Linked DNA regions of Homo sapiens. The protein of the gene in region 1 interacts with the protein of each later gene in a pairwise test. Each region holds a gene or a part of one and is shown in the gene's direction. Other genes may lie near its edges.

Region 1 (7,027 bases):
ACAAGTAAATGTTTAGTGAGCTTTGCTGGCAGGACTGGAGGAGTACAGGGACCTGTAGAACGTGGTCTGGGGCTTCTGGGAGCCTTATTGACTTAGTCAAAGCTCATTGGCTATAGAGTAGGGGGATATACAAAATGGAAAGAGCAAGATAATTTGTTTTAAGGTGTTTTTATTTGCCCTAGTTTTAACAAAACTTTCTTAGACTTATTAGGCATTTTGTACCATTTACTTGACTATTACTGTGATACATTACATGACCACTGCCTTTAGTGTTAATCTTTGCAAAGATCTTTTTGTTTCTACAATTGTAATGCAAGCCTTCTTATAAAATATTCAAACAATATAGAAACAAAATGAGAAGGTGGTATGTGTGGGGTAGGGAGACCATTGCTAGGAGATTTTCTTCATTATGTGCTTTTTTTGTTTTTTACTGTAAAAATTGTGGGAGACTTTTAAGTAGCCTACATATTAAAGCATTTTGAGATGTGTGATAGAGCACTGCTTCTCTGAAATTCTTAAAAATTCTGAAGTTTAGGCTGGGTGTGGTGGCTCATGCCTGTAATCCCAGCACTTTGGGAGGCCGAGGTGGGCGGATCACAAGGTCAGGAGATCGAGACCATCCTGGTTAACACGGTGAAACCCCGTCTCTACTAAAAAAAATACAAAAAATTAGACGGACGTGGTGGCATGCACCTGTAGTCCCAGCTACTTGGGAGGCTGAGGCAGGAGAATCGCTTGAACCCAGGAGGCAGAGGTTGCAGTGAGCTGAGATCACTCCATTGCACTCCAGCCTGGGCGACAAAGCGAGACTCCGTCTCAAAAAAAAAAAAAAAAAATTCTGAAGTTTAATGGTGTGATGGACATTTAGAGGGAAATGGAATACAGTTTTTAAGCTCAGTTTTATAGTCAATTAGTGTTTTATATTACTGTTGCTTAAAAACATTAAGAAAGGTAGATTTAGGAATAAACCTTTTGAGATAAAAAAAATACAGTGCAGTATTTTATTGCATCACTGAAATGGTGACAAGAAAAAGTATGTGATATACAAATTAATCCTGCAGTCTAACTCTTGACACTGTTTGCCTTGAACAACTAAAAACAAAACTCAGTAAATTTGAGATGAGACTTTAAATGCAAAAGCTGAAATGTGATTGGATTAGTATATAAGTGACATTAAAATTCTACATATACATTGGATGTTTTTGCTAAGAGAATTGCAAAGACATCAGTTTTAATATCTATAAATAGCATATTAGTGTGCTGTGAAGAATTACCTAATTTCGTGGTTTACCTCTATAATGTGATTGTTATAAAATACTGCTTTACCCAGCACCTTGGGAAGCCGAGGCGGGTGGATCACCTGAGGTCAGGAGTTCCAGACCAGCCTGACCAACATGGTGAAACCTGGTCTCTACTAAAAATAGAAAATTAGCTGGGCATGGTGGTGCATGCCTGTAATCCCAGCCACTTAGGAGGCTGAGGCAGGAGAGTCGCTTGAACCTGGGAGGAGGAGGTTGCAGTGAGCTGAGATCGCACCATTGCACTCCAGCCTGGGTAACAAGAGCGAAACTCCATCTCAAAAAAAAAAAAAAAACAAAAAAACTGTGTGTGTATATTGCTTTAGTACTTGCTCTGTATTATACAGTATTTACTAGCCATCATTTATTAGTGAAGTATTCCTGTGGTGGTTTATTGTATTTTCAATATAGTCATGCTAGATACAATTTCATATTATACAAGCTTCCTAGATTAAGGTAATGAGTAGTAAATGTATTAAAAATACTATATCACAGAGGTGAAATTAAGAGTTCTTGGCATATTGGCAGAACAAGATACAGGAAGAAACTGAGAAATCTGGTACATTTTTGCCAGACTTTTGCTGTTTTGATGCCGTGCACACAGTAGGCATTTAGTAAAGATCTTTGAATGAACTGAATATATTCTTTTGGTGAACTGGCAAAGCAGTGATCCCCCAACGTAGTGTGTTTGCATGTTGATTTATTTATTTAATAAATATTTGCTGTGTACTTACTAGATGTCAGGCCCTGCTGTGATGGTATGTGCATTCTAGTGGGATAAAACTGTCAAAAAATACATTTTAAAAACCAGGTAATGGTAAGTGCTATGCAGAAAGTTGAAATAGGATAAAGTATTTGATAATACTTCACTGGGTGGCTACATTTTTGTTGTTGTTTTGTTTTGTTTTTGAGATGCAGTCTTACTCTGTAGCCCAAGCTGGAGTGCAGTGGCGCCATCTTGGCTCACTGCAGCCTTCGCCTCTGGGGCTCAAGCGATTCTCCTGCCTCAGCCTCCCAAGTAGCTGGGACTAGAGGTGTGCCCCACCACACCTGGTTAATTTTTTTGTATTTTTAGTAGAGACAGGGTTTCATCATGTTGCCCTGGGTGGTCTTGAACTCCTGAGCTCAGGAGATCTGGGTGGCTACTTTTAAATTTACTAGTCACTGAAGGCCTTTCTGAATAAGGTGACATTTAAGCTGAGAGCTGAGTAAAAATGAGCACTCGAGAATGAAGAGAATGTTTTCTATAGGGAACTGCTAGAGCAAAGACCTTTAAGAATGTGTTTTGGGTACTGAAAAAAAGCCTGCATTGCTAAGGTGATGGGTAAGAGATAAGGGTGAGTTGGGTAAGAGATAAGAGAGTGAGTTAGGCAAGTGAGTTAGGCTAGGGGTTTTCAGGGTAAACTTGGAAACATTTACAAGCAGGACAGAAATCTTTGTTTCTTTGTCTCTGTCTCTCTTTTCTCTTTTTCCCTCCCTTCCTCTCTCCCTTCCTCCCTCCCTTCTTCCCTTCCTCCCTCCCTTCCTCCCTCCTTTCCTCCCTTCTTCCCTCCCTCCCTCCCTTCCCCCTTCCCTCTCCTTTCCTCTCCTTCCCTCCTTTCCTCCCTTCCTTCCCCACTCCTTTCCCTTCCTTCCTTCCCTTCCTTTTTCAACAAGGTCTTGCTCTGTCACCCAGGATAGAGTACAGTGGCATGATCATAGCTCACTGCAGCCCCAAACTCCTGGGCTCAAGTGATCCTCCACCCTAAGCCTCCCCAGTAGCTGGGACTACGGGGGCATGCCACCACGCCCAGCTAATTTTAGTTTTTTTTTGTAGGGATGGGGTCTTGATGTTTTATCCAGGCTGGTCTCCAACTTCTAGCCTCAAGTGATCCTCCTGCCTCAGCCTCCTAAAGTGCTGGGATGACAGGCATGAGCCAGCACACCTAGCCAAGAAATATTTCTTGTAGGATTTTTAAAGGTTACTTTGATGCTGTGGGGTGGGCAAGAGTGAAAAGCAGAGACATCAGTTAGGGGGCTTGTGCAGTAGTTTTAAGTAATTGCAGCTTGAACCAGGGCAGTAGGAGTGGAGATGTAGAGAAGTAGATGGAATTAGGATATGTTTTGAGAGGTACAGTTGGCTGTACCACTTGCTGTGTCACCTCAGGCAAGTTACTCAGTATGTGCCTTTTGGTCCTCTGCTGTAAAATGAGAATACTAGTATGAAAGTACTAACTTATTGGTATATGGGTTTTGAAATAATATTAACAGTGCTTGGCAATGTGGTACCACTCTCCCTCCATTGTTCTTGCTTAGAAAGCCTCAAATGTGATTAAATTCAACTCAGTGTTTGTACTTGCACCTGAGTGGCCAGAGATGCACCTTGTAGCCACATTGACTTGTCTTGCTTAAATTTATGAACATTAAGGAACTTAAGTTCATGAGCACTAAGGAACATTAAGGCACACTAAGGAACCTTAATTGGGTCCTTAGTATGCAGCACCTGACAGTCTTACAGTTTACTAGTCCAGTCACTCTTCCACTGCCACAGGATGCTTTCATATCATCTAGCCTGCTTATTTTCACTTGATGACCCTAGTCTTTATTTGATTGAGAATTTGGAAATAATCGAGACAGAATGTCTACAAGGTCCTACCGTAGCTACCTACCTGCTAGCCTCTTCTTACTGTAGATAGTTCTGAATTGTGGGCGGTGCTATCTAAGGCAGGTCCTTCCACTTTTCCACTGTACCTCATCCCCTGTCATGTGTGAAGGACATCACTCCATCAGATCTTTTCTCTTCATCACTGATTTTTCCCATTTCTAGGGTATACAAACATTTTTCCCCATCTTAATGATACACTCCCTTGTGTCCACATCCCTCTTTAGCTGCTGCCCTATTTCCCTGCTTCTCAAGAAAATTCAGGAGTATCTCTTAATTCTGTTTACTTTTTTCCACATCTTGCTCTTTTCAGATCCACCATACTGTTCCTAAAAGGGAGTCCTCACAACTTTGTACTTGTGCTTTGTCCTTAAGCACAATACTTTTAAAAAAGTCTTTCTCCTCTTTATTAAAATGAGAGTAATAATAATTGAACTGCTTTCCTAACAGTTGTGAAAATCAGGTGAGATCATGGGCATGGAAATATTTAGTGAATTGTGAAATTAGAAATAAATTTTGCAGTTTTTAAACAAATCCTGCTTTCATCAGTTTTTATTTCGATCATTTCACTATTCTTTCTTTAAAAGGTTTGTATGAATGAGATATTCTCATTTTCTTAGATTGACATAATCAGCAATTTTGAACAGTGTGTAAAATCAATGAACAAGGTCCTGCCGCGATAGATGCCGTATAGGATTCCAGTTAATTTCTGAAAGAAATTTGCTAAATTTAACCCTACTGTGGCACAGTGAATCGTACGAAGGACACTACACCATCTGTTCCCTGTAAGTTTAGATAAATAAATGTTTTTTATAGTGTCACGAAAGCTAATTTTACAACTGAATGAGCTTTATAAAACTTGTAAACATTGTATAAACTTATTTCGAGGAGGTAGACCAGCTACAAATGACTGACAATACATGAACAGATTCTGGAGGCTTAAACAGGTAGATAAAGTTGTTCTCACCAATTATTCCCCACACACTTCTGGTTGAATTAGGTAGGCACCTTGTTTTTGCTAGTGCACTGGCGAGATCCATTCTTTGCCTATATAGAAACTTACAGGTATCTTGGGAATTCTGCTTACTCAGTTTTCAAATTCCTGTGTTTCTTTTGGTCTTGTTGAAATCATACTGTTAGGAATATATTTTATAATAGATTAAATTGGCATGAATTGGTTGGCTTAATTTCTGTGGGACAAATGGGTTTTGGATTTCAAATCATATATTTAAAATAATAGCCTTTTGGATCATAACCCCAGTTTGAGGATTGCCTTTGTTATAGTGCCTGCCTCTTCTCACATAATTAATGTTATGCTATCAGTTATTGTTTCAATTGTAAAAATCTCCTGTACTAAATTATTTTATTCCTTGGGTCCAGTGAGGAGATTTTTCCTATTTGTACTGAAGTCAGCTGACATTTTTAAAATCAAATTTGTATTTGTAGAAATATCAGGAACCTACCTTGGGACAGAAATTCCCCAGGAAATACTCTGGTGCCTGTACCAGTTTCTCAAGTGGAAGGAGAAGAACCGAAGAACCAAAAAAGAAAAAGCATTACCTGTAGTGTAAACATAAGAAATCCTTTAGTACACATTTGGCTTTGGGAATCTCCTTTATTTTGCTAATTGTTGATTGCCAAAATTTAATTGCTGCTATTATTTTTTAATTAGGCCGTGTAGTATTAGAACTGCCTTAGACCTTTTTCTTTTAAATGAAATCTCTTTTTCTCTTTGAAAGTCCAGTTTTCCCTAAATTACTCAAGTAATTCAGGCTCATTATAGTAAATAAAGTATAGTAAAATGAGAATGGCTTTTGCCATCGGTCTAAGGAACCACTGTAGACTCTGTATATCCCTCTAGTCTTTTCAAAAAATACATTTACACATAATACATGAACACAACTACACTATTTGTTTAAAAAAATTAATTAGCAACTAGCTTTTTTTCCTCAAACATAGTTATAAATATTCATTTATATTGCATAATGTTCAAATGAATTTATGTACATTAATTTATTTTACCATTTCTCCTTTGTGGATGTTTAGGGTGGTTTTCAGTTTTTAGTATTGCAAAAAGCAATGTAGTGCACATACTTTGTACCTTTGTCTTTGAAGTAGTTACATGAGCACCTCTAGCATTGATTTCTAGATGCGAAATTATTTGGTCAAAGTGTGGCAGATTGCCTTTAAAAATGCCTGGTCAGGCTGAGCGCCGTGGCTTATGCCTGTAATCCCAGCACTTTGGGAGGCTGAGGTGGGCGGATCACGAGGTCAGGAGTTCGAGACCCTCCTGGCCAATGTGATGAAACCCTGTCTCTACTAAAAATACAAAAAATTAGCTAGGTGTGGTGGCGTGCACCTGTAGTCTCAGCTACTTGGGAGGCTGAGGCAGGAGAATCGCTTGAACTCGTGAGGTGGAGGTTGCAGTGAGCCAAGATCGTGCCACTACACTCCAGCCTGGTGACAGAGCGAGACTCTGTCAAAAAAAAAAAAAAAAAAAAAAGCCTGGTCAGTACTTACACACATTAACAATACTTGTTATTTACAAATACCATCTCCCATATGAGTAGCCAGGATTCAAATTTAGAGACTCTGCCTCTAGAGCCTGTATGTTTAACCTTTTTATTTCATCTGCCTTAGTGTCCCCATTAGAAAAAGAGGATAATAGTATCTACCTGTGTACTAGTTAACCTATTACTGCATAACAAATTACCCCAAAACTTAATTAGAACAGTAAACACTTACTATTTCATAATTTCTGTGAGTCAGAAATTCAGGGATATTTTAGCTGTGTGGTTCTTACTCAAGAGTCTCAGGAAGTTGGATTTAAGGACTTCATTCTATGCATTAAAGGCTTGACTGGCTGGAGGGTTCCCACTGAAAGTGACTTCCTCACATGGCTAACAGCTTGGTGATGGTTATTGACTGGAGGCCTCAGATCCTCCCCATATGTCCTCATGACATTGTGGCTGGCTTCTCCCAGTGTTAGTGATCCAAGAGAGCAAAATAGAAACGATGGCTTTTATATATAAACCAGCCTCAGAAGTCACACTTTTACTTCAGCAGTATCTTACTGTTCTTGTGGACT
Region 2 (7,304 bases), on another chromosome or scaffold:
TGGGGATTGCAGTGAGCTGAGATTGCACCACTGCACTTAATCCTACACAACAGAGCGAGACCCTGTCTCAAAACAAACAAAACAAACAAAGAAACAAACAAAAACCCTGGCAGATTATTGATGAAAAGGCATACACATTTATTAATGTGCACAGGGAGAACAAGAGAGTGATGATCCCAACCCCTCAACGGGGAGGGCAAGCTCATATTCCATCTTGAGGTTACTGAAAGAATGGGGAACATATCCCAAAACAGGATATAAGGGTAAATCATATGGTGGCCAGCAGTTATGGGATGGAGAGAAGCAGAAGCCTGGCTAGCCACAGTGGTCTTGTTAGGTCATTGAAACCATGCAGGTAGCAGCCTTCAGAGACACAATAGGTAGTAAATGTTTCCTTCAGGCTTCAAACGTTGTCAGACTCTCAGCTAATGTTTCCTAGATCTGGGGAAGGGAGGGCTCCAAAGAAAGCCGGGCTGCCTCAGTGTAGATTTTCTCTGCAGATGCAAATCTTTCCCACAAAAGACAGCTTTCCTTCTATTCTTGTATTTCCAACCCTTCCAAAGAGGTATCTTATTTGTTTTTTTTCTTTTTTATTATGAAGTGGTATCTTAAAATACGTCAAAGAAGTTTAATTAATTAATTTATTTATTTTTGAGACAGAGTCTCACTCTGGTGTCCAGGTTGGAGTGCAGTGGCTTGATCTTGGCTCACTGCAACCTCCACCTCCCGGGTTCAAGAGATTCTCCTACCTCAGCCTCCCAAGTAGCTGGGACTACAGACGTGCGCCACCACACCCAGCTAATTTTTGAATTTTTAGTAGAGACAGGTTTTCACCATGTTGGCCAGGCTGGTCTCGATCTCTTGACTTCGTGATCCGCCCGCCTAGGCCTCTCAAAGTGCTGGGATTACAGGTGTGAGCCACCACACCCGGCCTGGATTACTTCTAAAACTATGAAAAGTAAAGTGTAGTTAATTTTTAATTTTGTTTAGAGATAAGGTCTCACTATATTGGCCAGGCTGGGATTACAGACACACGCCACCAAGCCCAGCTAATTTTTGTATTTTTAGTAGACACGGGGGTTTTTCTATGTTGCCTAGGCTGGTCTCGAACTCCTGACCTCATGCAATCCGCCCAACTCTGCCTCCCAAAGTGCTGGGATTACAGGCGTCAGCCACCACGCCTGGCCAGAAGTGTATATTTTGAGGTGAAGTGAAATATTTTGGTTTCCTTCGAGGGGATTGTTAGTTATCTTGCTGTGGTGTGGCCTTAGGAGATGCATTCTTTTCTGTTGTTTTTGCCACCTTCCTTGTTTGCCTGTGTTGGGCACATCGGGGTCTGATGATTAATAGGCTGATTTTCACTTTCAACGTAGAGACTACAGAAAAGTCGAACTTAAGGGCTTATGAAAAACTGCCTATGGAAACTCAGAGTTTAATATGTTGCATCTGAGTGGACAGTAGGCCTTATGGGGAAAAATAATTAAATACACTCTGAGGCCCGGCATGGTAGTTTATGCCTATAATCCCAGCACTTAGGGAGGCCAAGACAGGAGCATCACTTGAGCCCAGGTGCTGGAGACCAGCCTGGCCAATATAGTGAGACCTCATCCCTAAACAAAATTAAAAATTAACTACACTTTACTTTTCATAGTTTTAGAAGTAATCCAGGCCGGGCGTGGTGGCTCACACCTGTAATCCTAGCACTTTGAGAGGCCTAGGCGGGCGGATCACGAAGTCAAGAGATTGAGACCAGCCTGGCCAACATGGTGAAAGCCTGTCTCTACTAAAAATACAAAAATTAGCTGGGTATGGTGGCGCACGTCTGTAGTCCCAGCTACTTGGGAGGCTGAGGCAGGAGAATTGCTTAAACCCGGGAGGCAGAGGTTGCAGTGAGCCGAGATCGCGCCATTGCACTCCAGCCTGGTGACAGAGCAAGACGGTCTCAAAAAAAAAAAAAAAAGTAATCCTCAGAAGCTAGGATATTCCTTATTTCTCAGCCTTAAAATAGAAGGCTCTATTTACAAGAGCCTTCTTTCGGGCTCTCCCTTCCCCAGACCTGAGAGAGATTAACTGAGAGTCTGACAACTTGAAAAGTCTGAAAGAAACATTTACCACCTATTGTGTCTCTAAAGGTTACTACCTGTGTGGTAGCCTTTATTTGCCACAATATGGATAAACCTGCAGGACATTATGCTAAATGAAATAAGCCAGACACAAAGAACAATACTACATTATCTCACTTATACGTGAAGATGTGAAAAAGTTGAATACATAGCAACAGAGTAGAACAGTGGTTTACCAGGAGTGGAGTGGGGAATGGGGACATCAGGTCAAAGGGGACAAAGTTGCAGCTGTGTAGGATGAATAAGTCTAGAGATCTAATGTACCACATGAAGACTATGATTTTTTTTTTTTTTTGAGACGGACTCTCGCTCTTGCCCAGGCTGGAGGGCAGTGGCGTGATCTCAGCTCACTGCAAGCCTCACCTGCCGGGTTCACGCCATTCTCCTGCCTCAGCCTCCCGAGTTGCTGGGACAACAGGCACCCACCACTATGCCCAGCTAATTTTTTGTGTTTTTTGAGTAGAGACGGGCTTTCACCGTGTTAGCTAGGATGGTCTCGATCTCCTGACCTTGTGATCCGCCCGCCTCGGCCCCCAAAGTGCTGGGATTACAGGTGTGAGCCACCGTGCCCGGCGGAAGACTATGATTAATGTTAATAGATAATATTGTATTGTATACTGGAAAATTGCTAAGAGTAGAGCTTGGGTTTTTACCACAAACACATACACAAAATATTCATGTGAGGTGATATGCTAAATCTGCTTGACTGTAGTAATCACTTCACTAGGTACATGTATATTAAAACAATGTTTTACACCTTAAATACATACAATTTTAAAGACGCATTAAAAAAAAAGCTAGGATATTCCAGACATATTTTGTTACTCATTATGTATTCACTGCAGTGTGAAAAGCACAATGCAAAGGGGTTTTTTTTTTTTTTTTTTTGCTTTTTGTTTTTTTTTTTTGAGATGGAGTCTAGCTTTGTCGCCCAGGCTGCAGTGCAGTGGCTAGAGTGCGGTGGCGCGATCTCGGCTCACTGCAAGCTTCGCCTCCCGGGTTCACTCCATTCTCCTGCCTCAGCCTCGGAGTAGCTGGGACTACAGGCGCCCGCCATCATGACCGGCTAATTTTTTTGTATTTTTTAGTAGAGACGGGGTTTCACCGTGTTAGCCAGGATGGTCTCAATCTCCTGACCTGGTGATCCGCCCCCCTCGGCCTCCCAAAGTGCTGGGATTACAGGCGTGAGCCACCGCGCCCGGCCAGTACAAAGGTTTTTAAACAGATTCTCATTTAACTTTCACAGCCATCTCTGAAGTAGGTACTATTATCTATTACTATTATTATTATTTTGAGACGGAATTTCATTCTGTCGCCCAAGCTGGAGTGCAGTGGCGCGATCTCGGCTCACTGCAACCTCCGCCTCCCGGGTTCAAGGAATTCTCCTGCCTCAGCCTCCTGAGTAACTGGGACTAGCCACTACACCCGGCTAATTTTTGTATTTTTAGTAAAGACGGGGTTTCACCACGTTGGCCAGGCTGATCTCGAACTCATGACCTCAGGTGATTCGCCTACCTCAGCCTCCCAAAGTGCTGGGATTACAGGCGTGAGCCACCGCGCCTGGCCTATTATTATTATTATTGTCGTTTTTACAGAGGAGAAAGCAGGAGCACCAAGAGGTAGGATAATTTGCTAGAAGACCCATGGCTTAGAAAGGGAAGCCTGGAGATAAGGGGACCAGCCCTCTAGAGCATTGCTCAGCCAAAATACTTGGCCAAGATCACATCTCTGATACCAGGAATGAGATAACCTTTATTAAGTGTTTACCATGTACCAGGCACTAAGCTCAGTGATTTCTAAGGACATCATATAATCCTCACAGCAACCATATGTGGGTCTGCTGTCATCCTTATTCGAGAGAGGCTGAAACGGAGGCTCAGATAGAACAAGTACCTAGCTCAAATATTACTAGAGAAATGGGAAAGTGCAGATTCAAACCCAGGTCTTCCGACTGCAAGTCCCTAGTCCCCAGCCCCAGCTCCACTATATCAGCCTCTGCTAGGAAGAAAGCCGCTAACTATGGACTTTCGTCGCCGGGGTTTCGAGCCTAGGACACACCTGTACAGACCCCCGTTTGCCCCGCCCCTTTCCGGAGGAGACGTCCCCTCCACCAATGAGCGGCGCCGTGGGCGGGCCGCGGGCGCGCATGCTCTGGGCCCGCAGTTGAAGTGGCGAGAGCGCTCAGATACGCGACGCGTAGCAGGCGGGGACCGAACGGGTGCCTCAGTGTCCTTCCCCTCCCCTCGCCTGGCCTCGCCGTCCTCTCCCCGCAGCCGGACCGGAACTATGTGATCCCGGAAGTTCCGGGGCCTTTGCTGTGTGGGATAAACAGTAATGGCGGAGGCTGCAACTCCCGGAACAACAGCCACAACATCAGGAGCAGGAGCGGCAGCGGCGACGGCGGCAGCAGCCTCCCCCACCCCGATCCCCACAGTCACCGCCCCGTCCCTGGGGGCGGGCGGAGGGGGCGGCGGCAGCGACGGCAGCGGCGGCGGCTGGACTAAACAGGTCACCTGCAGGTAGGACGTTGCGCGGCGGAGCGCCGGGCGCGGGGAGGGGGCCGCGGGCCAAGCCTGCGGCGCGGGAGGGAGGAGGGCGGCCGGCCTGCGGCTAGAGGCGCGGGAGGGCGGGGACCGGCGTTGTCTCGATCTCTGCAGCCCTCGCGGCCCCCGCTGCCGCCGCGTTCCCCCAGTCACTGCGTCAACCCCCGCTGGGCCGCGGAGCCCTCAGCGCTGTCCGCGGAGGCCTGGCGGTGCGCGATTACTGCGGAGCCGCGGGGCTGCACCGCCGCTTACACTTCCCTGAGCGCTGCCTGAGCTGGCTGCGAGCGCATCGGGGAGAGGTGGGCTGGCTCCTCCCCTGCCGCTGGAAGGATGCCCCCGCCGCTGCCTCCGGCTCCCGGGGCTCGGGAGGTGGTCACTTGAGGCCGGTCTCCCAGCGATCCTCTCCGGGCCTAGACACCCCGCCGAGGGCCCCAGCGAGCTTGCCTGGCTCCCGGCCCTCTCCTCTCTCCGTGCCATCCGTTTGTAACGTCTTTTCACGTCCCTCCGTCCCTCCGCCCCCCATCCTCCGCCCAACTGTGAGAAGAAGCTTTTGTATTTCTTCTTTGTATGTTTGTCGAGGTTGGCGGTGCTGAGCTTTGTCTTAGAAGCAGGCGTTCGGGGGCCGGGGTCGTCTTCTCCACCCGCGGTTTTTTTGAGCTGCAGATTATTACCCTCCCCCAGCGCTATGTTCCTCTTTTGAAATTTACGCATCTTCCGAAGGGAGTGAAAGGGCTCTTCGCTCCCGGAAGAGAGAGAGGTTTGGTTTTGGTTTGATATGCGAGACGAAAATATTAGAAAAATTAAGGGATGGCGGTTGTATGGATGTGTATGGTTGTAAAAAACTACCTAGCTCTACGCAGAAGAGGGCATTTAATTGTACGTTTTTTATTTTCCGGTTTTTAAATAGTGATCAGTAGCGACTGTAAGCTTTTCTTTTTCTATCAGTTGAATAAATCAACTGAAATGCCGGTTTTCACCTGGGTGGTATAATTTATATGCAAGTATGTAAAAATGATTCCTAATTAGAACTTGTAGTATTAAGGGTGAAATTTGAAACCTTCCCAGTCTTTGATGTGATACATTTATCCTGGCGACCTTCGAAGGTCTCTCAGCCTTTGATATGATACATTTAAGGTGTGAAGGATAAGCTTAATTATTTTACATAATGGGATGTAGAAAGCATAAACGCAATTTCAGGTCACTTGTCTTATTCATCGGTGGATTGTAAAAGTGGAATATTGCCAGGAATGATGATTTTAAAGTTTCTACTCATGGAGCAAATTATTTGAATATCTGTTTCCCTTTTACAATGCTACAGTTGATCTATATGTGCTAGTTACATCTTTTAAAAGATTGAAACCGGCCTGTCGGGGTGGCTAGGTCGGCGTGGTGGCTCACGCCTGTAATCCCAGCATTTTGGGAGGCTGAGGCGGGCGGATCGCCTGAGGTAAGGAGTTCGAGACCAGCCTGGCCAACATGGTGAAACCCTGTCTCTACTAAGAATACAAAAATTAGGCCGGGCACAGTGGCTCACACCTGTAATCCCAGCACTTTGGGAGGCCAAGGCAGGTGGATCACGAGGTCAGGAGCTCAAGACCAGCCTGGCCAAGATGGTGAAACCCCGTCTCTACTGAAAATACAAAAAACATTAGCCGGGCGTGGTGACAGGCGCTTGTAATCTCAGCTACTCCGGAGGCTGAGGCAGGGAGTTGCTTGAACCCAGGAGGCAGAGGTTGCGGTGAGCCAATATCACACCACTTCACTCCAGCCTGGGCGAAAGTGAAACTCTGTCAGAAGAAAAACAAAAAAGAAAAAGAAAGAAAAGAAAGAGCTTAGATTTACTAGTTTTTGGGGGTTTTTTGTATAGCTTTTGCTTGAGACAGTTTTTTATTGTTGTGCAGATTCCTTGATAGGTCTGGGGTTTTAGTGTTTGACATTGTTTTCGGTTGTTCTAGGTACCAACATGATCTCTTACTTAAAACTATTTTCTCCTTTAGATAGAGGAATGTCAACTATCATTTTTTTTTTTTTTTTTTTGAGACAGAGTTTCCCTCTTGTTTCCCAGGTTGGAGTGCAATGGTGTGATCTCTACTTACCACAACCCCCGCCTCCCAGGTTTAATTGATTCTCCTGCCTCAGTCTCTGGCATTACAGATGCCTTAGTAGCTGGGATTACAGGCGTGCACCACCATGCCCACCTGACTAATTTTGTATTTTTAGTAGAGACGGGCTTTCTCCGTGTTGGTCAGGCTGGTCTTGAACTCCCGACCTCAGGTGATCTGCCGGCCTCAGCCTCCCAAAGTGCTGGGATTAGAGGCGTGAGCCACCGCACCCGGTCTATGATCCTTATCGTTCACTTTGAGCTCTCTGAGAAGAGTAGGGCCCTATTTTATCTGCAGGGCTTTCTTTCCTCAGTTCCTCAGTTTCTTTCCTCAGTTCCAGTATCATGAACAGGATACTCAGTTACTGAGTATCCTGAGCAGATACTGAGTAAATGCTTGAGTGATGTTGATAAAGTCATATACCTAGAATTACCCACTTTAACAGGAACTTTGTAAGATTCCTCTGCTTTCATTAAAAAAAAAAAAAACAAAACTTGTAAATTACCAAAGACAAAGTACTTAACAGAACACATGTG
Region 3 (7,027 bases), on another chromosome or scaffold:
ATATTTTAAAATAATATTTTTTATTTCAGTTATACAAATACTTGGCTAGATATAGTTTTTATTTTGACATGTTAGAAGGATAGTTTTGAGGTAAAAGTAATTCTTTATTAAATATTTTTTTCTTCCATTTTTGTTTTGTTTTGTATTTTTGAGTTGGGGTCTTGCTCTGTTGCGCAGGCTGGAATGCAGTGGTATGATCATGGCTCACTACAACCTCTTACCTTCTCAGCTCAAGAAGTCCTTCCTCCTCAGCCTCCTGAGTAGCTGGTACTACAGGCATGTACCACGATGCCCAGCTAATTTTTTTTTTTTTAATGTTTTTGTAGAGATGGGGGTGTCAACTATGTTGGCCAGGCAGGTCTTGAACTTCTGGCCTCAGCTGATCCTGTCACCACCACCTCCCAAAGTATTGGGATTACAGGCATGAGCGACTGTGCCTGGCCCCTTTTCTTCCCTTTTTAAAACCTAATTTGAATTTCATAATATCTAGACTTACATTAATATAACACATATGCCTAATTCTATCACTTCTTTTTTTTTTGAGACGGAGTTTTGCTCTTGTTGCCCAGGCTGGAGTGCAGTGGCGTGATCTCAGCTCACCTCACCCTCCACCTCCCGGGATTCTGCTACCTCAGCCTGCCGAGTAGCTGGGACTACAGGCATGTGTCACCATGCCCGGCTAATCTTGTATTTTTAGTAGAGGCGGGGTTTCTCCATGTTGGTCAGGCTGGTCTCGAACTCCCTACGTCAGGTGGTCCGTCTGCCTCAGCCTCCCAAAGTGCTGGGATTACAGGTGTGAGCCGCCGCACCCGGCCTCTATCAGCTTTTTTATGTTTGCAGGCTTTTTGTTTTTGCTTTATTCCACTAGGTTTCCCAGATTTAGAAGAAATCTTTCATTGTCCACTTCCTCTATTTCCTTTAGATATTCTTATTTCTATTTTTTTTTTACATTTTTCTCAGTAACTAAAACTGTCTGCACATAGAAAAGAACCTGTCTAAGTTGTCATTGAACAAACCAAATGATGTTTGTGATCATTTACTTCATATAAATGTGACATTGCGTTAAACAATTAGATTGTTGGCTTTCACATTAGCTCCAATTTTGAGTTTAAATGGAAGACATCAGGAAAATAAATACCAAGGAAAACAGAACTATCTGACTTTATCAGTTATTGCCTCTTTTCCCAGATTTTTTCTTAATTTATAGCTCTTCTTTTTTTACTTTTAAGATAACTATCTCTGGGTTTCAGATGTTGCTGTTGCTAAAAAGGCGCTCTCAAGCATACACTGCGTCAGATGATATTTTTTATTATAATGTAGATTATCAAAACTTAAGCATATACTTAAAATGTTTCATAATTATAGCTGACTTTGTTTCTACAAAGGTGAAATACTAATGTTATATGTTTCTTTTTAATTTTCAAGTTATATAGATTCCTTGCTGTTCCTCATCTGTGCTTATCAGAATAACAAAGAACTCTTGTCTAAAGGCTTATACAGAGGACATGATGAAGAATTGATATCACATTATAGAAGAGAATGTTTGCTAGTAAGTTGAATGCATATAGTATGATCTTATCATTTTGTCTGACATTGGGCAAGTTTTCCAGACTCATATATAAGTGATTGACTCCATAAACTCTGAGGGGATAAGAACATGATGATGTCTATAAACTGGTTCTAGTCCCTTCAGATGGAAAAGTACACTCAGTACTTTATTCTTTTCTCTTTATGAATCCCAAGTACTATAGGTGATAAATGAGAAATGTTCTTAAAATAGCATCAGTTTGTTTACATTTCTGTATTTAGATTTCGTCATCACACTACCACTCCTTTTTTTGGTGGGAGAGGAAGGGATGCATAGATAAGCCTTAAAAAATGTTTTATGTAAGTCTATAAGAATATGCAGGCTGGCGCAGCAGCTCATGCCTGTAATCCTAGCACTTTGGAAGGCTGAGGCTGGTGGATCACAAAGTCAGGAGATCGAGACCATCCTGGCCAACGTGGTGAAACCCCATCTCGACTAAAATACACAAACACAAAAATTAGCTGGATATGGTGGTGTGCGCCTGTAGTCTCAACTACTCAGGAGGCTGAGGCAGGGGAATCGCATGAACCTGGGAAGTGGAGGTTGCCTTGAGCCAAGATCGCGCCACTGCATTCCATCCTGGCAACCAGGTGACAGAGCAAGACTCTGTCTCAAAAAAACAAGAATATACATAGAATGTATTAGAGTAATTTGTTTAACTTAAAAAATTGAATTTTCAGGTACAAGAATAGTATAGCTGACTTTAAACATACATAGAACCAAAACCTGATGGTTCCTCTGAAACCTTCAAAAAATGGTATAATGTTTCTCATCATTTTTTGTAGTAACCCAGCCACATTTGGTTATTTGTTTTACATAGGAATTGAAATGAAACCTCGTCAAGATTACTTTAGTGTTCCTTTCAGATTTTTTCACGTTGTATATTTACAAAGTGTCAGGTTCTGAGGGATACAAACATGAGTAAGATGTACTTCCTGTCCTCAGAAAACTCAGTCTGGTAGGAGACATAATTGTTTGTTCTGGAATAAGTGCCATTATGAGAAATATGCACAATGATATGCCTGAAATATTTGGGAAGAACCTTAAGAGACAAGGTAAACCTCGTCTGGATCTTGATGGATAAATAGAAGTTTTATTCATGATAGAGAAGGGAGAATATTCCAGTACACAACAGAAAATCAAGATAAATTCACTGTGGCTATCCAGGTTATGAGGAAGTGGGGTAAGGTGGAAGTGATGAAGCTGACAATACTTGTCGATGTCAGATGATGAAGAAACTTAGATGACATTCAAATGAGTTTGCACCAGTGTAAGTTTGATTAGGTTTGGCATAATGAGGTTTGTTTTCAGAAAATAATTCTGGTAATAATAATAGCATTCTAGAGGATGAACAGGAAAGAAGTAGATTGAAGTCAAGAACCTTAGAGGGGAAAGTCAAGGGACGGAGAGTGAGGACCTCAACTCATGTAGTACGGTAGGTATGATGGTGAAGGAAATGAAATCGGCATGTCATAGCTGTTGGGTGAGTGGGAAGAAGGAAATGGAAGAGTCAAAGCTGCCAAACTTACTAGTTTTTCGTTTAATATTAGGGAGTCTAATAGGAGGAACAAGGTTGGCTTTGAACATGTTTTATTTAAGAGATTTCCAGGACATTCTTTGATTCAGTGAACTTAACATTAAACTTGTCATTAAATTTTATATATCATTTAATGCATACTTCCAAAAATTGTAGTAAATACTTGAAGATTTATCTCATTTTATTCTCTTAACCCCTATGGTTGGAAGATAAAATACCCTATTATTAATATAAAGAAAGTGAAGCTAACAGATTTAGCTAATCTGTTCACGATTGGTGTATTAGTCCGTTCTCACACTGCTATAAAGATACTACACAAGACTGGGTAATTTATAAAGGAAAGAGGTTTAACTGACTCACAGTTCCACATGGTTGGGGAGGCCTCAGGAAACTTAAAATGATGGCGGAAGGTGAAGGGGAAGCAAGGACCTTCATCACATGGTGGCAGGAGAGAGAAGTGCAAGCAGAGGAAATGCCAGATGCTTATGAAACCATCAGATCTCATGAGACTCACTCCCTGTCACAAGAACAGCACTGGGGAAACTGTCCCTATGATCTGATCACCTCCCACCAGGTCTCTTCCTCAACACCTGGGGGTTACAATTCAAGATAAGATTTGGGTGGAGACACAAAGCCTAACCATATCAATTGGGTAATTGATTCATGGCCAAGTTGGACTTAATAGCACAACCATCTTTCCAAAATCAAAATAAATTGCATAAGAATTATGTGGTGTAAATCTAAATATATAACTTTTTTTATTTGAAATTCAGCTTAAAAGTCATGTTTATCATGCTGTAAACATAAGATTTTAAATAAGAACCCTTAAATATTATAGGTCTTATACCTGTATTTATCTCTTATGTTTCTTATTGCATGGATTTCTCTGTTCTACTAGATCAGTGATCAGCACACTATGGCTTGTGCTCCACCTACCACTTGTTTTTATAGATAAGTTTTATTGAAACATAGCCATGCACATTCATTTATATATTGGGTATTATTGTCTTTGTACTACAATGGCAGAGTTGAATAGTTGCAACAGAAACTTCATGGCCTTCAAAGCCTATAATAGTCCTCGTCTGGCCCTTCACAGAAAAAGTTTGCCAATCCTTGTACCAAATTGTAAGCTCCATGAGAGTTTTCTGTATTAATCACTTGAGTGCCCCTGCATCTGCAGAAATTTCTGGCACGTGGTGTTGACTCTGTAGGAAGTTTTTGAAGGGAAAAGTGAATTGATTACCTTTATATTTCTGTATCAAGGAATACAATAGTATATATTCAGTTGCCATTAATGGAGATGAGTTTTTCAAAAATTAATATGGATTCTGAATTTCTTTATTTTTAAAACTATTTTGAGTGCTTATACAATTTTATAATTTGGGGAAGTTAATCTCTAGAGAAGAAAAAATGGCCCCTGTGTTGATGATCGGCATAAGCCAAACATGACTGAAAAACACAATAATGTTTTCTCCACCGCTGTTGCTTTTGTTTCTGTTGTTGCCATATGCATAGCTTTTTCTAAAGAGAGATTTTCAGTTCTAGATAGGTTGAGATTGTTTTCTCTAAATACCGTTTGTTCTAATACTGTTTGTGAACATATTTATGTTGTCTTCCTTATTAATACTTACAGATCCTTAATTTAAAAAGGAAACAAAAACCTATTCTTTTTTTTTTCCTGCATTGCATTAAGAAATTAAATGAGCAAGCCGCAGAACTCTTCGAATCTGGAGAGGATCGAGAAGTAAACAATGGTTTGATTATCATGAATGAGTTTATTGTCCCATTTTTGCCATTATTACTGGTGGATGAAATGGAAGAAAAGGATATACTAGCTGTAGAAGATATGAGAAATCGATGGTGTTCCTACCTTGGTCAAGAAATGGAACGTAAGTTTAAACAATGGTAGTAGGCACCTGAGATGTCCGGATTAAATGCAGTTAGAATTAGATGTTATTTATTCTTGCCATTTTTTATATTAAATACAATATTAAGTATTAATATTTTCACATTCACATGATTACTCTTTTTCCATATTGATGAACTAAGCTGTGTGCATTGCAGTTGCCATTTATGTTTTTGTCTCCCCAAAATGGCAATTATCTTACCTATTAGAGTAAGTTAATATTAGTAAATCATGTTGACAATGATCGTGTAATAATTTCTATCTTTAGTTAGATTTAATTGTTTGTATTTGCAGCACACCTCCAAGAAAAGCTGACAGATTTTTTGCCAAAACTGCTTGATTGTTCTATGGAGATTAAAAGTTTCCATGAGCCACCGAAGTTACCTTCATATTCCACGCATGAACTCTGTGAGCGATTTGCCCGAATCATGTTGTCCCTCAGTCGAACTCCTGCTGATGGAAGATAAACTGCACACTTTCCCTGAACACACTGTATAAACTCTTTTTAGTTCTTAACCCTTGCCTTCCTGTCACAGGGTTTGCTTGTTGCTGCTATAGTTTTTAACTTTTTTTTATTTTAATAACTGCAAAAGACAAAATGACTATACAGACTTTAGTCAGACTGCAGACAATAAAGCTGAAAATCGCATGGCGCTCAGACATTTTAACCGGAACTGATGTATAATCACAAATCTAATTGATTTTATTATGGCAAAACTATGCTTTTGCCACCTTCCTGTTGCAGTATTACTTTGCTTTTATCTTTTCTTTCTCAACAGCTTTCCATTCAGTCTGGATCCTTCCATGACTACAGCCATTTAAGTGTTCAGCACTGTGTACGATACATAATATTTGGTAGCTTGTAAATGAAATAAAGAATAAAGTTTTATTTATGGCTACCTATGTGTTTGTAAGCAGGTATATTGTATATTAGTGTATTAGTAATACTAGATAAATGAATTTTGTCTGGGGATTAAGATTGGATAGTTAATAGATTAATACAATCTTTTAATTCTGCTCTAATGCTAGCAAATTGGAAAATGTTTAAGTCTTTGACACTTAAATTTATCTATATTTTTAACAAAGTTCTTGAACTTAGTATGGCACCGGAACCTGTTTTGAATTCAGTCAGGTTTTTACTCAAGTAAGTGGTTGATTTTTTTTAAGTCAAACTACACTGAAACTTTTATCCTTTTCTTAGATTAATCTTACTTTTTAAATGTATTTACAATATACAGCAAGGTGATTATTTCAAGAGAATCCCAAAGTACTTGAATAAGGGCTATTGTAAAATTTAAAAGAAATATTTATATATACACATATATACACATACACACATGTATATATATATTCTTCATAATGGAGGACAATGTTTTGCAATATATAAATCATTCTATTTTTGTAAATTGTATATCACTTTAATTGAAAATGTTCTCTACTAATTAATACTGTGAAACAAAATTGATGTTGTTTAACTAGAAGTTATGAGTATCTTAACTGCCTTTATTCCTTTTCAAAAAGGAAAAAGCTGTAGAACATTTTGTAGATGAAACTACTGTTTAAGATTAATGAATTAATATTGTGAATGAAAATCAAAATCCATACTTTAAAGGTAATCATGTTACTAACAACCTATTTTTGAATTCATAAAAATTTCTTTATAAATGATGTTTTGTGAACATAGTAAAATAGACCATTATACTATGTGTATGTTTGATACAGCGTCGCCAAAACTAGTGTTCTTTATTAGTGCCTCTCACAAAAGATCCTGGATGGAGGAGTAAGATGAAATATTATGCTATTATATGATGCTGTTTGTAAAGGTATTAATGTACTAGTAAGGTGTTAATGACAAGGAATTAGTACTATTCCTGTTGTAAAGTTAGATTTTGCATATTGTATCTATCAAAATATGTTTGGGTTTAGATTTTAAGTTGTCTACTGAGCAGATTTCTGCATTGGTTTTCCAGTCCTGTTAAAAGTTTAGAAACTTCAT
Region 4 (7,135 bases), on another chromosome or scaffold:
TTGAACCTATGGATTTGAGACCAGCCTGGGCAGCATGGCAAAACACTTGTTTCTAAAAAAAAAAACCACGGCTGGGCGCAGTGACTCACGCCTGTAATCCCAACACTTTGGGAGGCTGAGGAAGGGTGGATCACCTGAGGTCAGAAATTTGAGACCAGCCTGGCCAACATGGTGAAACCTCATCTCTACTAAAAATACAAAAATTAGCCAGGCATGGTTGTGGGCGCCTGTAATCCCAGCTACTCGGGAGGCTGAGGCAGGAGAATTGCTTGAAGCCGGGAAGCAGAGGTTGCAGTGAGCCAAGATTGCACCACTGCACTCCAGCCTGGGCAACAGAGTGAGACTCCTTCTCAAAAAAAAAAAAAAAGAAAAAAAATTAGCCAGGCATGGTGGCATGCACCTGTGGTCCAGCTACTTGGGAGGATGAGGTGGAAAGATCACTTGATCCTGGGGAGATCAAGGCTACAGTGAGTTGTGGTTGCACCACTGCACTCCAACTTAGGCAACAGTGAGACACTGTCTCAAAAAAACAACAAAAAAAAGAGCTTATTTTTTAAATACTTTATACTCTATTATAAACTCTATATTAAAATGTTTTAAAAAAAAAACATGTTTTTGATAGTAGGGATGGTGTCTCACTATGTTGCCCCAGCTGATTTTGAACTCCTGACCTCAAGGGATTCTCCCTCCTGGACCTCCCAAAGTGTTGGGACTGCAGGCCAGAGTCACTGTGTTCAGCTTGATGTATTATTTAAAAACTGATGAAAAGATAAGCTAGGATAGAATTTAATTAAGTGGTTTGTTTTCCTCTAAAATTGAATCTCAGCTGAGAAAGAAATTTGGAAAGGGACTGTTAGATATGTTCACTCACCTTTACTCCATAAGATTTTTTTAATCACCTAATTCGATCAGGTGGATCTACTTTCTTCACCTGTCTCACATTTGCCCGTGAATTCTCTATGTGTAGAAACAAAATTAATTTCTTTACAAGATCTATTAAAAATCTGTTGAAATTAACAGATTGCTGTGTGTATTGTGAGAGAATGGAAGCAACCAACAAATATTTTGGATGTCCAAACTACAGAAACATCCCTCAACTTGGAATCTACCAGTTCCTGATTTTAAAGATGGCAAAAGAACGGAAACTATAACCCTGCATGCTGTGTGGTTTGCATTGTTAACCCAAGTTTGCTTGTCTGTTTCCTAATTCACACAGAGCGTCAGAAGCCATGATGCATGTAGTGTGTGTGTACTGCAGCTGGAGTGGGCCCCAGACCAGGTATTTATAGACACCATGTTAAGCCTTCCATCCAGTTGTCATCTGTGATCTGACAGTCTGTATCCGCAGCAGTTTGGGAAGTTAGCATTTGTCATTCACCATTTCACCTTGTTCAATCTGGTTACAACTAGCCTATATGCATTTGTATTTTGGCATGCATACATGGATATGTAACATAAACTCCTGTTTAAAAATGGATTCGTTATTAGAACCATCCAACAGGGAGAAAATCCCAGTTAAAACAGTGTCTATTATATCTACCCCATCTTGGCTACTATAAATATCACATCAAGAATATTGGCCTCACAACACTTTGTTGTTGGAGATAACTATGCTTTCATGGGTTTCATAAGTGCCTTTCCTCTGAAAAACTGAAAGCTGTTCTTTTACATTACTGCATACAACTACCTGGAGTTATAGAGGGTTAGAAATTTTAATTTTGTTGAAGAAGAAATGGAAACTTAGGCCAGAGGACTTGTCAGGGGTGACTCTGAACAACAGGAACTAAGACTTTGCTTTTCCTTCTGTCTCTGGCCTGACAGATTTTCAGGAAGCACTCTGCTTCCATTTCCTCTGATGTAAATAATGGTAAACATCAGCTCGAATACATTGGCTGACTTACTAAGAGGAGGAAAGATGGTCTTTTAAACCAGCATCATAAGACTTTGTAGGAGTTTGCAAGCTGGTTGGAATTAGATACATAGCATTTAGTTTCTCTTCTTTCTTTCCTTTTTCTTTTCCTTGTAAGGATAGGTTAAAAGCAGGCATAGTTGAATTATTCTTAATATCCACTGTCCTCATCCTCTTCTCCTGTCATTCTGTAAACTGACCTAGTCCTCCCCTACGTTTAGGACTTAGGCTAGTGAAACTGACCTTCTCAGCTACAAGAGGACTATATGCTACTTTTTTAGTACAAAATTCATTGAGGGTGTGTTCACCTTGACCTCACTTGTTTATAACTAACACACAAATACCAGAAGGCCCTTACCATACCTCTTTATGTTGCTTACATGGATATTTCACTACAGTGCATTGTTTCTGTTAACATTAGTTCAAAATTCAACCTCTTCCAGAGTCAGCCTTAGTTTTAAATAAAACTAATAACTGTTAGACATCTGGTGGTATGAAAATAAAAAAACTAATAACTGTGTTTCTAGACTCTAATGGGTATAGCCTAAACTGAGATAAGTGCAGTTTTCCTTTTTACTCCTAAAGTGTAAGTAAGGTAAGATTGTTTCATGGGAAGTCAATAGCTTCCTGAAACAATGCTTTGTCTTCTCATGCTGTTAACCAGTAGTTTATTAGAATGATTTAAAGCCTTTTGAATATAACTGCTTTGCTGCTTTTTAAGATCAAGCCCTCTTGTTGGATGTTAACATTTAGTACTGAGCATTTGAGTTGCATCTGTCCTAATAATAGATTGTATTTTGAAGTCATTTTTGTTACTGACCTTTTGATTTTTATTTTTTATTATTATTATTTTTTATTTTGACTGAGTTTCACTCTGTCACCCAGGCTGGAGTGCAGTGGTGCAGTCTTGGCTCACTGCAACCTCTCCCTCCTGGGTTCAAGCAATTCTCCCACCTCAGCCTACCTAGTAGCTGGGATTACAGGCACCCACCACCACGCCTGGCTAATTTTTGTATTTTTAGTAGAGATGAGGTTTCACCACGTTGGCCAGGCTGGTCTCGAACTCCTGACCTCAGGTGATCCACCTGCCTCGGCCTCCCAAAGTGCTGGGATTACAGGCATGAGCCACTGTGCCCAGCCCTTTTTGATTTTTAATTAAAGATCTTACAATGGTCGGGTGCGGTGGCTCTTGCCTGTAATCCAAGCACTTTGGGAGGCTGAGGCGGGCGGATCACCTGAGGTCAAGAGTTTGAGACCACCCTGACCAACGTGGAGAAACCTCATCTCTACTAAAAATGCAAAATTAGTCGGGTGTGTGGCGCATGCATGTAATCCCAGCTACTCTGAGGCAGGAGAATCGCTTGGACCCGGGAGGCGGAGGTTGCGGTGAGCTCAGATGGCGCCATTGTACTCCTGTCTGGGCAACAAGAGCAAAACACAGTCTTAAAAAAAAAAAAAAATTCTTACACTTACATGCGTAGAGGTCAATTTTTAACTGGATTGGTGGCAAAAGAAGAGCTGGAAATGATGTTTAATGATACTATGATGCTTACACTGAGCCGTCTTGTTTGGGTGGTCTAAGGTAGCAGTGAATCTAAATAGTCATTGCCAGTTGAAAAACTATTAATGAACCATCTCCCTCCACATTCCCCTTTCTTTAAAACATTTAAATATTCTTAACTTAGTTGCACACTATTGATGTGATAAAAACTTATAAGCCTTTTAAGTTTAGAGTTGTATTATTTGGTAGGATGATGATTGTGATTTAATCTGCTGATCATTAGTTTACTTTTGTTTTCTGAGTCAGATGCTCACCCAGTTTTACCATGATTTTTGGAAAGCTTGGCTAGAAATAAAATAGAACATTTGCTTCTCTGTCCCCAAGCATTATGTTATTTCTTATTTCTCTTTATAATTCCCTCTCTGTCCAGGTATACCTGGTTTAAGACTTCTCATTTGTAACCTCAGTGTTCACATTTGAAACAAGAAAAGTGCATTAACATGAGAATCATTCTGGTGCAAAGATTCTCAGGATTTGTAATATCCTTAAGAATCACCCAAGGAGCTTATTGAAAATGCACATTCCTGGATTTACTCTCAAGTATGGTACCCCAGGGTCTGCATACTTCACAAGCGTCCCTGGTGGTTTTAGGGCAAGTGGTGAAAAAAGTACACTTGGAGAAACTATTCTAGAGTTGTAGACTAGACTAGGGAATAAAGAAACATAAATGTCCTTCATTCCTGAGCACTAACCCCGCCATTATGTGAATGCATATTAATGGATACTTAATCACATTGAATTACAGTATGCAGATTTTATTAAGAACATGTCTACCTCTTATTCTGATGCTGTGAATGTCTACCACAATGAGAAAGTAATTTTAAAATCATTTCTATTTGTGTAAGAGAAACCCGAGTTTGAGGACCTTATTTTATTCTACGCTGTTTAGATTTGTATCCTCTGGTAATTTAGTGGCATTAGTCACCTGCTAATTAATCTTTTTCCTTTCCCCTGTGTTCCATATAGAGAAAAGTGGTAAAGAATCTACCTCACTGGGAATGTCATCATTACCAACTTCAGATGGGTTTAACCATCCCGCCCGTTCTTCAGGACAGAGTCCTGATGTTGGTAATCCTATGAGTCTTGCTCGCTCTGTCTCTGCTTCAGTCTGCCCTATCAAGCCCAGTGACTCAGATCGCATTGAACCTAAAGCTGTGAAGGCTTTGAAGGCTTCAGCTGAATTCCAGCTAAACTCTGAAAAGAAAGAACATCTTTCTTTACAAGATCTTTCTGATCATGCTTCCTCAGCAGACCATGCTCCAACAGACCAGAGTCCAGCTATGCCTATGCAGAATTCATCCGAAGAAATAACTGTTGCAGGTAATCTGGAGAAATCTGCTGAAAGAAGCACCCAGGGCCTCAAATTTCATCTCCATACAAGACAGGAAGCTAGTTTATCTGTCACATCTACTAGGATGCATGAACCACAGATGTTTCTAGGTGAAAAGGATTGGCATCCAGAAAATCAGAACCTGAGTCAAGTGAGTGACCCTCAGCAGCACGAAGAACCAGGGAATGAACAGTATGAGGTTGCACAACAAAAAGCTTCACATGACCAAGAATATCTTTGTAACATAGGGGACCTTGAGCTTCCTGAAGAAAGGCAACAGAATCAACACAAAATTGTTGATTTGGAAGCTACGATGAAAGGAAATGGGCTCCCACAGAATGTGGATCCTCCAAGTGCGAAGAAAAGTATTCCATCTTCAGAATGCAGTGGCTGCTCAAATTCAGAAACATTTATGGAAATCGATACAGCTCAACAGTCCCTAGTTACTTTGCTTAATTCAACAGGCAGGCAGAATGCCAATGTCAAGAACATTGGTGCATTGGATCTCACTTTAGATAATCCCTTGATGGAAGTAGAAACATCAAAATGTAACCCTTCATCTGAAATTTTGAATGATTCCATTTCCACTCAGGATTTACAGCCCCCAGAAACTAATGTTGAAATACCTGGAACAAATAAAGAATATGGCCATTACTCCTCTCCAAGTCTCTGTGGCAGTTGTCAGCCTTCTGTGGAGTCAGCAGAAGAATCTTGCCCGTCTATAACGGCAGCCTTGAAAGAACTTCATGAACTTTTGGTTGTTAGCAGTAAACCAGCTTCAGAAAATACATCTGAAGAAGTAATCTGTCAATCAGAAACCATAGCTGAGGGCCAAACCAGTATTAAAGACCTTTCTGAAAGATGGACCCAAAATGAGCATCTTACCCAGAATGAACAGTGTCCACAAGTCTCCTTTCATCAGGCCATATCTGTATCAGTGGAGACAGAAAAATTAACAGGTACTTCATCTGACACTGGAAGAGAAGCTGTAGAAAATGTAAACTTCAGGAGTCTAGGTGATGGCCTGTCAACCGATAAGGAAGGTGTCCCCAAATCTAGGGAATCCATAAATAAGAACCGTTCTGTCACTGTAACCTCAGCTAAAACATCCAATCAGTTACACTGCACCTTAGGTGTAGAAATTTCACCCAAACTTTTAGCAGGTGAGGAGGATGCACTCAATCAGACTTCTGAGCAAACTAAGTCTTTGTCATCCAATTTCATATTGGTTAAAGACTTAGGTCAGGGCATACAGAATTCAGTAACAGACAGGCCTGAAACCAGAGAAAATGTCTGTCCTGATGCTTCGAGGCCATTACTTGAATATGAACCACCTACCAGCCATCCATCATCAAGTCCTGCCATTCTTCCACCATTGATTTTTCCTGCCACAGATATTGACCGCATTCTCCGTGCTGGCTTTACTTTGCAGGAAGCTCTTGGAGCTTTGCATCGAGTTGGTGGGAATGCAGACCTTGCACTTCTTGTTTTGCTCGCAAAAAACATCGTAGTTCCTACATGACTGTGGGAAAGTGGGCTAGACCGTTCTCCATTCCCTTTAAACAAAAGAAAGCTCTCTCTATATACACGCACACATACACACTCACCACATATACAGTATATATAGAAACCTGCAAGCAGAATGTTGAGCCAGATTTTTTTTAAAGATTTTTTTCGGCCAAAGTAATTTATGATCTTTTGTCTGATGAATTTGTCTATCCTACTTGTTAAAATTTAGGCCTTTTTAAATGTATTGGCAGTATGTGCATACAGAAGCTTTTTATTCTCATTAAGATGTATCCTGGAATAAAATGGATGGTTTTGTGTGTAGCATACTGTTTTAGAATGAGAGTAAATGCTTTGAAAAGCAGAAGCCATGAGAAATCCCACTACCCATCCAGCTAAAAACAGATGAACTCTCCACACTGTGACTGTGTGTCTGTGCTGATGGCAAGGTATGGTTTGCTGGCTCAGTTGTCAATTTAGAAACTTTTGACCACATAATTTGGTGTTTGGAATTCTACCCAGTGCTCTGTGTATCATGATTCATTAATTATAACAGGAAATTGGAGAATAATTGAATATCTTATCGTAGAGTGGTATGTTTTTATTTGTGTGCTTAGGATTTGACATTTTAATAGGGCGAGCAGGAGGGTTTAAATCTTGGGCTACTTTGTGCATCACAGGCTGCTGCATGGATTGCCATGAATCCTTATTACATTGGATGGGATATTGTGGGGGAGTTACAATGCAAGTGAAACGTGGTGCTACCCAGATTCTTAAAAGAACAGAACAACCATAATTCCATTTGCAGATGTCAAGAACTGTGAGGGAA

What was found.
Region 2: the proteins of RAD23B (region 1) and MKRN1 interact in binary tests that used the Homo sapiens proteins (3 or more experiments, as listed by UniProt).
Region 3: the proteins of RAD23B (region 1) and USP25 interact in binary tests that used the Homo sapiens proteins (3 or more experiments, as listed by UniProt).
Region 4: the proteins of RAD23B (region 1) and RSC1A1 interact in binary tests that used the Homo sapiens proteins (3 or more experiments, as listed by UniProt).

The regions. Positions count from the first base shown.
Region 1 is NC_000009.12:107,286,257-107,293,283, forward strand, and holds part of RAD23B (UV excision repair protein RAD23 homolog B), read left to right. Parts: intron 1-7,027. UniProt on the Homo sapiens protein: Multiubiquitin chain receptor involved in modulation of proteasomal degradation. Binds to polyubiquitin chains.
Region 2 is NC_000007.14:140,476,498-140,483,801, reverse strand, and holds the start of MKRN1 (E3 ubiquitin-protein ligase makorin-1), read left to right. Parts: upstream 1-4,296; 5' UTR 4,297-4,457; coding exon 4,458-4,642; intron 4,643-4,813; exon of another isoform or gene 4,814-4,965; intron 4,966-5,139; exon of another isoform or gene 5,140-5,202; intron 5,203-5,404; exon of another isoform or gene 5,405-5,423; intron 5,424-7,304. UniProt on the Homo sapiens protein: E3 ubiquitin ligase catalyzing the covalent attachment of ubiquitin moieties onto substrate proteins. These substrates include FILIP1, p53/TP53, CDKN1A and TERT.
Region 3 is NC_000021.9:15,872,978-15,880,004, forward strand, and holds part of USP25 (ubiquitin carboxyl-terminal hydrolase 25), read left to right. Parts: intron 1-1,425; coding exon 1,426-1,549; intron 1,550-4,818; coding exon 4,819-5,014; intron 5,015-5,325; coding exon 5,326-5,498; 3' UTR 5,499-7,027. UniProt on the Homo sapiens protein: Deubiquitinating enzyme that hydrolyzes ubiquitin moieties conjugated to substrates and thus, functions in various biological processes including inflammation and immune response.
Region 4 is NC_000001.11:15,655,401-15,662,535, forward strand, and holds RSC1A1 (regulatory solute carrier protein family 1 member 1), read left to right. Parts: upstream 1-4,312; 5' UTR 4,313-4,468; coding exon 4,469-6,322; 3' UTR 6,323-6,633; downstream 6,634-7,135. Other genes in the region: DDI2 (protein DDI1 homolog 2), read left to right, coding at 1,217-1,233. UniProt on the Homo sapiens protein: Mediates transcriptional and post-transcriptional regulation of SLC5A1. Inhibits a dynamin and PKC-dependent exocytotic pathway of SLC5A1. Also involved in transcriptional regulation of SLC22A2.